Linked DNA regions of Homo sapiens. The protein of the gene in region 2 interacts with the protein of the main gene of each other region in a pairwise test. Each region holds a gene or a part of one and is shown on either strand. Other genes may lie near its edges.

Region 1 (5,225 bases), on a different chromosome or scaffold from region 2:
CCGCGGCCGCGCGGTCCTAATGCGCGCCCTCGCGGCCCCGCCCACCCCCGAGTGCATGGTTTTTGGGTCTGGTGACCGCCAGTCTCGCCCACCCACGGGATCATGGGCTTTTCTTTCCCCTGGGGGACAGAGATCGTGGCTCCGCTTCTCCCCAGAGCCCGCGGGCCCCGGGGAAGTGCGGGTCGGAAAAGGGGACGGGCCGCGCCACAAAGGTTTTCTTCTCCAGAGGCAACAGCTCGGCCTCCGGGGCCGTGAGCAGCCCAGGAACCGTGGCCCCAGCTTCCAGGTGCTAGGCAGCCGAAGCCTGGCAACCAGCTCCGGGGAGCCCAGCTGGGGCGGGGAGGCTGGACTGGGCGCTGGGCCAGAGGAACCTCGGCCCCAGCCTCCGGCTGCGCCCACATTCCTCCCTTGGCCGCAGCCCTGCCACCGAGGTCGGGCCCAGCCCAGTCCTGGGGTGCCTGGTCGCCACCCCCACCCTTGAAGACACCACACTCCAGGCAGGCAGCTGATATTTTTATTGGCCTTCCTGTCCTCTGGGAAACCGGTCTGGTCCCACCAGCTACCCATTCTCTCAACTGTTTCTGGGGAAAGGCATGGGGGGGACGGGCAATCTCCAGCGCGGATCTTTTCTGCAGCACTTAGTGACTCCTGCCCTCCTGCTGGGGAAGAGAGGCAAGCCGACGTCTAGCAAATCCTGCCTCAGGATGAAAGTGTAGGGGAGGTGGCAGCACTCCCGGGGACCGCCCAGCCCCGGGCTATGCAGAAGCTAGGCAGGCCTAATGGCCAGTCCAGGCAGGCCCTGGCTTGCCCTGCTCCAAAGTATGGAGATAGAGTCCCGGTAAGCACCAAATACTTTTTTTTTTTTTTTTTTTTTTTTTTTTTTGAGAGGGAGACTTGCTCTGTCATCCAGGCTGGAGTGCAGTGGTGCGATCTCGGCTCACTGCAAACTTCACCTCCCGGGTTCAAGGGATTCTCTTGCCTTAGCCTCCAGAGTAGCTGGGATTACAGGCGCCCGTCACCATGCCTGGTTAATTTTTGTATTTTTAGTAGAGACGGGGTTTCACCATGTTGGCCAGGCTGGCCTCAGTCTACTGACCTCAAGTGATCCGCCCGCCTTGGCCTCCCAAAGTGCTGGAATTACAGGCGTGAGCCACCGCACCCAGCCTTATTTTCTTCTTTTTTTTTTTTTTTGGTGGAGACAGCGGTCTCGCTATGGTCCCCAGGCTGGTCTCCCAACTCCTGGCCACAAGGGATCAAGGGATCCTCCTGGCCAAAGCACTGCCTATGCAGGTGTGAGCCACCGCCGCCGGCCCAGACTTATTTTCTAACTGGGCTAGGGGAAAGGGTAGGGTCTGTGTGGAGCTACAGCTGCCTTCAGCCTTTTTTGTTTTTTTTTTTTTTTTGAGACGGAGTCTGGTTCTGTCGCCCAGGCTGGAGGGGTTTACGCCATTCTCCTGCCTCAGCCTCCTGAGCAGCTGGGACTACAGGCGCGTGCCACCACGCCCAGCTAATTTTTTTGTATTTTTAGTAGAGATGGGGTTTCACCACGTTAGCCAGGATGGTCTCGATCTCCTGACCTCGTGATCCGCCCGCCTCAGCCTCCCAAAGTGCTGGGATTACAGGCGTGAGCCACTGCGCCCGGCTGCCTTCAGCCTTTTTATGGCAAGGCTCTGGAGGCCACCCTGCTTCCAAAGGCTAGGTCTGCCTTCTAACTCTAGCCAGGCTGGACCCTGGGGACACTGACTGAAGGGAGGAAGGGGTAGGAAGGGCAAAGAGGTGGTAGGAGAACAAAGTGGTTGAGGTTTCCATATCCAAGGCCAAAAGCAGAGCAGGGGTTTTGCCAGCCCTGATACCCCATGATGACACAATCCAGGAGACAGCTGCAAGTCATGCCTTGGGCACCTGCACTTTTCAGAGCATTCAGAGGAGAAGCAATATCAGGGTGGTCCAGAGGTGAATCCGGGTGCCTCAGGGGGGGACCGGCTCATCTGTGACCGCTGGAGGGTACCGAAGAGAAACCCTTGCAGCTTCTGAGGGCAGTGCCTCCAGAAATCATCACCCACCTCCCACTCCCACTGGGCCCTGGATTCTGGACCCTGTTAGGCCAGAAAGAGAGTTTCAGCATCAACGGGACTCAGCAGTAGGAGAAAGAATGCATGTGAGCCCTGGGGAGCAGTGGAGGCAGCCCTTCCATGAGGCCCAAGAAGCACCAGCCTTGGCCACCCCAGGCAGGAAGCTTGAAGCTTTTCAACCGCAGCTTCTGCTTTTTTTATCTGGGGGCTAAAGATGCTTTTGGTGATGTGGCCATCTGTGAACACTGGGGATGGGAGTGTGGACAGGGGCCAGCTGGGCTGTGTGGTGAAGTGGGAAAAGTTACAACTCACATCGAACAGCCAGGAGGGTGTTTCCATGGCAACAGGACACGGAAGTCACCGTGTAAGGGTGTGTCTCATCCAACTGCACTGGCCGAGGGAGTCCGGCATCCTCATCCCTCCTTCCCAATCGACCTCGCGCCCCTTTGCCCCAAGAGTACACTTCGCTCTCTGCCAGGAAGAATCCCCAGGAGGGAAGTGGGAAGTGGGCACAGCCCGAGCAGGATCTCCCCTCCCACATTGCCAGGATGGCCCCTGGGAGGCTCCAGAGTCCAGTGGCCCTGAATAGCAACCCCCACCCCCCACTGCTCATGGCACTGTCTGCCCCCACCATGCTCAGTCCTCACCTGCCCCAATAGCTACAGTGAAGGCATCCCCACAGGCTACCATTGCCATCTTGATGCCCTCAAGGCCTTGGACCTTACAGGGTGCCCGACTGCCTCGGCGAGTATTGGTGCCCAACTGTCCGTGCTGATTGCTGCCAAAAGTGTAGCAATCACCCGAGGCTATGGGGGAGAGGAAGGAAAGGGGTGCTTCAACAGGGTACCAAGGAGACCGTGAGTCCCCCTCTGACCTCCAGAGCCCAAGTCCTCCTCACCAGTCACAGCAGCTGAGTGAGCAGTGCCCAGGTCTATACTCAGCAGAGGCTCCTGGTCCAGGGGTGCAGAGCCTAGTAGTGTGAAGCTCAGGGCCTCCTCCACTTGCTGGTGGGGGACAGGCTCCTCCCCCAGGGAGAGGTGGTCCAGGCCCAGCTTGTTGAACCTGAGGGCAGAGCCAGAAGCCAAATCCAACTGACAGACAGTTTGGGCAGGAGCTGGTGCACCAGGAGACAGATCCCACCCTGGGTTGAACCAATAGCACCCTCAACCCCCTCAATTCTGGTCTTTGGTGAAAGGTAGGCAATGATGGACGGAGCACTTGCAGCCAAGGAGAGCCAGGGGCAGGTTAGTCATCCTGATGATCTATTCACCTGTTGCTCCCACAGGCTAGGGCTTGGCCAGGCACAGTGAGGATCATGGAGGAATCGATACCACATACAACTCGCTGAGCTTCCTGTCCTGGGGGCATGGGCACCTGCTGGGGGCAGCTGTGGGACTCCCTGGTGCCTAGCCCCAGTCTGCCTACAAGAAGAAACCCAGAAGGAGTTAATTTGAGCTTTAGTGGGGGTGATGCCCGAATGAGGAGGGCCCACTGAGGGGAGGGAACAGCATGAGTTCTCTGTTCTCTCAGTCCCAAATGCCTTTCCTAGGCCCCTCTGCTGGTTAAAATCCTCCTTCTTTATTTTTTATTTTTATTTTTCGAGACTGAGTCTCACTCTGTCGCCAAGGCTGGAGTACAAGGGTATGATCTTCACTCACTGCAACCTCTGCCTCCTGGGTTCAAGCGATTCTCCTGCCTCAGCCTCCTGAGTAGCCGGGATTACAGGCATGCACCACCATGCCCAGCTAATTTTTTTATTTTTAGTAGAGACGGGGTTTTACCATGTTGGCCAGGCTGGTCTTGAACTCCTGACCTTGTGATCCACCTGCCTCGGCCTCCCAAAGTGCTGGGATTACAGGCGTGAGCCACCACGCCGGCTCAAAATCCTCCTCCTTTAAAGCCCTGTTCAAATGACATCTCTCTCCTCCAGTTGACATTACTGTTCACTGAATTCCACGCCTCTGCACTGGGGTGTAGCCCTGATGCTATCTGTTCTCTGGCATGCTGGCAATGTCATCTTTCTCCCACTAGACTGAGTCCTCCAGGAAGACAAGAACCCATCAGTGTCATCTCTAGTTTCAGTGGCCAGCCTGATGCCTGACCCAAAGAGGACCTCAATAAAAAAAATTAGTGGATGGGCCAGGCGTGGTGGCTCACGCCTGTAATCCCAGCACTTTGGGAGGCTGAGGCATGTGGATCACGAGGTCAGGAGTTCGAGACCAGCCTGGCCAAGATGGTGAAACCCTGTCTCTACTAAAAATACAAAAATTTGCTGGGCGCGGTGGCGGGTGCCTGTAATGCCAGCTACTTGGGAGGCTGAGGCAGGAGATTCGCTTGAACCCGGTGGTGGAGGTTGCAGTGAGCTGAGATCACGCCACTGCACTCTAGCCTGGGTAACAGAGCGAGACTCCATCTCAAAATAAAATAAAAAACTAGGTGGATGAATGAAATTTCCTTCATTACCTCATAAACACCTGAAGGAAGCCACATCTCCATCTCATCTCAGCACCCAGCACAGGGTGTGCACATAGTCGGTGTAAAATAAAGGTTTGTTGAATGAATGAAGAGAATTTGAGAGAAAAGAGGGAAGAGAGAATGTGCTGTGAGGTGGAAGGTGGGTATGAAGGGGAGCAAGTCATGGCTGAGGATGCTGTGAGATGGGGCCTAAAGGCTGGAGCTTACCGCTGTCTCCACGGCCCCAGGCAAATAGTTCTCGCTCAGTGGACAGGGCCAGCACGTGAGAGGCCCCACAGGCCACCTGCACCATTTCATAGCCCAGCAAAGCCTCCACAATGGTGGGCTAGAGAGGAGAGGAAGCAAGGAGAAACTGGGCAAAGGGTCTGGAGCCATCTGGCTTCAACACCCCCTGTAGGGACAAAGCTGGAGGCTACACATTCTCAGGAGGTGGCTGTGTCTTTAAATCCAGCCATACACACTGCCAGGTGGGCAACCATTGGGGAAGCCTGGTTTTTCTGTACTTTCCCCGATGTAGGTGGCCCAGAGCAGGTGCAGCTGGGAAGCTAGAGGAACCTGTGGTTGCTGGGAACTCCCCTGCCCCCAATCTGGTGTCAACTCACAGATGTGGGCTCCCCGCCATCCCCCGACTTCCCCTTCCCAAGGTATATGTGACACCCACCTGGCTGATGTCAGTGA
Region 2 (4,134 bases):
AATTATTACTGGAATTGAATTAATTAATATGATTTTGAACAGTTCATGTTCAAACTAACATCCTGTAAAGTAGACACTGCAAGGAGTTACTGATGAAAGAAAAGTTGTTCATAAAAGAAGCCTCCTTTTATAATTGACTTGCCTTAGACTTATTTAATAATGTTTCATAGTATTTTTTAAAAAGTATCTGAACCTTGTACATATTTACAATTATGAGACATCCTATCTAAAAATTTATATTTTCGATTTAACATTTGTGGCTGGCAGTGATAATTTTTACTCTCTGGTACTATGAATCATCTCATTAAAATCCTCTCAACTGAATGACATTATCCCAATTTGCAAATGAAAGAGAGACAGAGAACCTAATGATTTGCCCCTGGTCTATACCTGGTACTTGGAGGTAGGATTCAAAGCCAGGCAGTTCTGACTCCAGAGGCTGTGCTCTTAACCACTCTATACATTACCTCTCAAAATAAAAGATTAATTGGACTCAAGTGAAATTGCTTGTATAATTTTTAATCAAAACTATATGCTGGCCACATTAACTTCTGTGCTGTCATCATGATCATAGAATAATAACAACACTCAATTTATTTCTCTATACTAATAACTTTGATAAAATGTTATTATTTATTAAATCTATTTTTCAGAAACCAAAAAACAGTAAACATGAGTCAAGATGAATTAAAAGATAAGCCAATTTTTAAGGCCGAGCGCAGTGGCTCACACCTGTAATCCCAGCACTTTGGGAGGCCAAGGTGGACGGATCACTTGAGGCCAGGAGTTCGAGACCAGCATGGCCAACATGGTGAAACCCCATCTCTACTAAAAATACAAAAATCAGCTGGGTGTGGTGGCGCATGCCTGTAGTACCAGTTACTCCAGAGACTGAGGCAGGAGAATTGCTTGAACCTGTGAGGCAGTGAGACAAGATCACACCACTGCTCTCCAACCTGGGCAACAGAGTGAGGCTCTTGTCTCAAAAAATAAATTAAAAAGCCATTTTTATATTCATCAAAGTAGAGTTAGGAACAACCAAAATTGCCAAGGATAATTAGGGACATTATATAATGATAAAATTCACCAAGACAGTGCTAAAAGTGTAAGCACTTATTATCAGATCTTAAAAATACATGAAGAGACCAGGTACAGAGACTCATTCATTCCTGTAATTCCAATGCTTTGGGAAGCCAAGGTGGGAGGATTGCTTGAGGCCAAGAGTTCAAGACCAGCCTACTCAACATAGGGAGACCCTATCTCTACAAAAAATCAAAAATTAGCTAGGCATAGTGATATACATCTGTAGTCCTAGGTACTGAGGAGCCTGAGGTGGGAAGACTGTCTGAGCCCAGGAGTTTGAGGCTGCAGTGAAGCATGACAGAGTTGCTATGCTCCAGCCTGAGTGACAGGGTAAGACTCAAAAAAAAAAAAAAAAACATGAAGCAAAAAGTGGTAGCATTAAAAGGAGGACTGGACAAATCTTCATTTACAGTTGGAAACTTAAACATTCCTCTCTCAGTAGTCCATAGAATTAATAGAAAATTAGCAAAGATGTAGGAAAATGGAATAATACTAATAACCAGCTAGATTTAATTGACATAAAACCCTTCTACCTAAAACAGCAGAATAAGCATTCTTTTCAAGTACACATGGAACACTCACCAAGATAAACCACATCATGGGTCTTAAACCTTAACAAATTTAAAAGAGATGAAATCATATAAAATATGTTTTTTGACCATAATCTAGAAATCAGTAACAGCAAGAAAATCTCCAAACACTTGGAAATTAAACAACACATTTCTAAATAACTCATGATACTACAGGGAAGTCTTAAAAAATATTTTAAAATAAATGAAAATATCACCGTGCTTGGAATGCAGCCATGCTGGTGCTGCAATTTATAACAATCGACTGCTTTTTACTAAACAAGAAAAAGTTCTCAAATTAACACTCTAAGCTCCCACTTTAAGAAAGTAGGAAAATCTAACTGGGTGTGGTGGCACACCACTATAGTCCCAGCCACTCAGAAGGCTGAGGTAGGAGGATCATGACCCCACGAGTTTGAGGCTGCAGTGAGCTATGATCATAACACTACTCCAGTCTGGGTGATGAAGTGAGACCTGTCTACAAAAAAAAGAAGCCCAAACTAAACCTAAAGCAAGCAGAAAGAAGAAAAAAAAAAAAGAGGCAGAAAATAAATGCAATTGTAAACAAATTAATAGAAAACAATCAAAAAACTAATTTTTGAAAAGAGCAGTAAAATTGATAAACCTCTGGCAAAATTGACAAAAAAAGAGAAGGAATTCCAATCTTTGATTCCAATCTTAGGAATCAAAGAAAAGATAACAGTATAGATCCTCATTAGAACGACACAAAGAAAATACCATGAACAACTCTATGCACATAGGATTAGATGAACCAATTCCTTGAAAGGCATACAGTACCCAAACTTAAATAAACCTCAATAAATTCTCTATTTTTAAAAATTGAACCATTGTTTAAAACCTTACTAGCAAATTCATAAAACATTTAAAGATATAACAAATTCTACAAATCTCTTCCAGAAAGAATAATCACTTTGCAATTCATTTTACAAGACCAGAATTAACATGATACCATACCAAGATAAAGATAACACAAGGAAAAAACAAACAAAAACAATTGCACAATATCCAAAATGAACACAGACATAAAAATCCTCAAAAAATAAAAATCTAGATACATAAGCTGAATAATGTACCATGACCAAGTTTGGGGTTGGGAGGAAATATAAGCTGTTTCAAAATTCTGGAATCAGTAAAATCCATGATTTTAACAGTCTAAACAAAAAGAATGACCAAACTGATACAGAAAGAGCATAGAAAATTCAGCATCCACTCATGAAACTCTGCTAACAACAAATTAATAGATGGGAACTTGCTCAACATGACAAAGGGAATTTAAGAAAAGCCTACAGCTTGCATACATAATGGTCAAAAACAATGCTTTCAAAATCCTAAGATCCAGAACAAGACTGAGATGGCCACTTTCTCCATGTTATTGTTCTGGCCACTGCAATCAGGCAAGAAAAATCATAGACTAAAAAGAATAAAATAAAACTGTTCCTATTCGTAGTTTATGTAGAAAACTTAATGAGTTAACAACAAAATCAGGCAAGAAAAATCATAGACTAAAAAGAATAAAATAAAACTGTTTCTATTCGTAGTTTATGTAGAAAACTTAATGAGTTAACAACAAAATAACTCCCAAAACTAATGAAGTTTAGCAAGGTCACAGGATACAAGGTCAACAAACAAAAATCAAACACATTTGTACATACTAGCGATGTGCAATTGGAAACCCATGTTTCAAAAATAATACAACTTAACAATAGTTCCTCCAAAATGAACACTGTGGAATATATGCTGAAAAATGACATAAAATGCTGATAACTGAAATGAAAGAGGTCCTAAATAGATACCTCATGTTCATGGATTGGAAGACACAAAATTGCATTCAAAACCCCAGTAGGATTTTTTGTAGATACAGAGTAGCTAATTCTAAAATTCATATGGAAGGCAAAGAAACTAAATTAGCCAAAACAATTTTGAAAAAGATTTCAAAAAAATTTTGAAGGAATCATGCTGCCCAGTTTTAAGACTTACTATAAAGCTGTGATAATCAAGGCAATCTGGTATTTATGAAAGGATAAACACATAGATCGATGGAATAAAGTCCAAAACCAGACTCACATAAATAGCAATTGATTTCTGACAAAGGTGAAAAGACAACTCAATGGGGAATGGAGAGTTTTTCAACAGACGATTTTAAAACAACTGAACATCCATATGCAAAAAAATAAACCTACCTAAATTTCACAGCTTATACAAAAATTAACCTAAAATGGATCACGGATCTAAATGTAGAACTAAATTTATAAAATTTTTAGAAGAAAAAAATCCATAGGCCGGGCACGGTGGCTCATGCCTGTAATCCCAGCACTTCAGAGGCTGAGGCGGGCAGATCCGTTGAGGTCAGTTCAAGACCAGCCTAGCCTATATGGTGAAATCCCAACTCTACTAAAAATAAAAAATAAAAAAAAAATGGGCTGGGAGTGGTGGTGCACACCTGTAGTCCCAGCTACTTGGG

What was found. Proteins that work in one complex are often made in the same cells at the same time.
Region 1: the proteins of NUDCD2 (region 2) and NEK8 interact in binary tests that used the Homo sapiens proteins (3 or more experiments, as listed by UniProt).

Annotation. Positions count from the first base shown.
Region 1 is NC_000017.11:28,738,731-28,743,955, reverse strand, and holds the end of NEK8 (serine/threonine-protein kinase Nek8), read right to left. Parts: coding exon 5,209-5,225; intron 4,873-5,208; coding exon 4,755-4,872; intron 3,494-4,754; coding exon 3,343-3,493; intron 3,135-3,342; coding exon 2,971-3,134; intron 2,879-2,970; coding exon 2,720-2,878; intron 2,544-2,719; coding exon 2,385-2,543; intron 1,998-2,384; coding exon 1,969-1,997; 3' UTR 501-1,968; downstream 1-500. UniProt on the Homo sapiens protein: Required for renal tubular integrity. May regulate local cytoskeletal structure in kidney tubule epithelial cells. May regulate ciliary biogenesis through targeting of proteins to the cilia.
Region 2 is NC_000005.10:163,446,023-163,450,156, forward strand, and holds the end of NUDCD2 (nudC domain-containing protein 2), read right to left. Parts: 3' UTR 504-4,134; downstream 1-503. UniProt on the Homo sapiens protein: May regulate the LIS1/dynein pathway by stabilizing LIS1 with Hsp90 chaperone.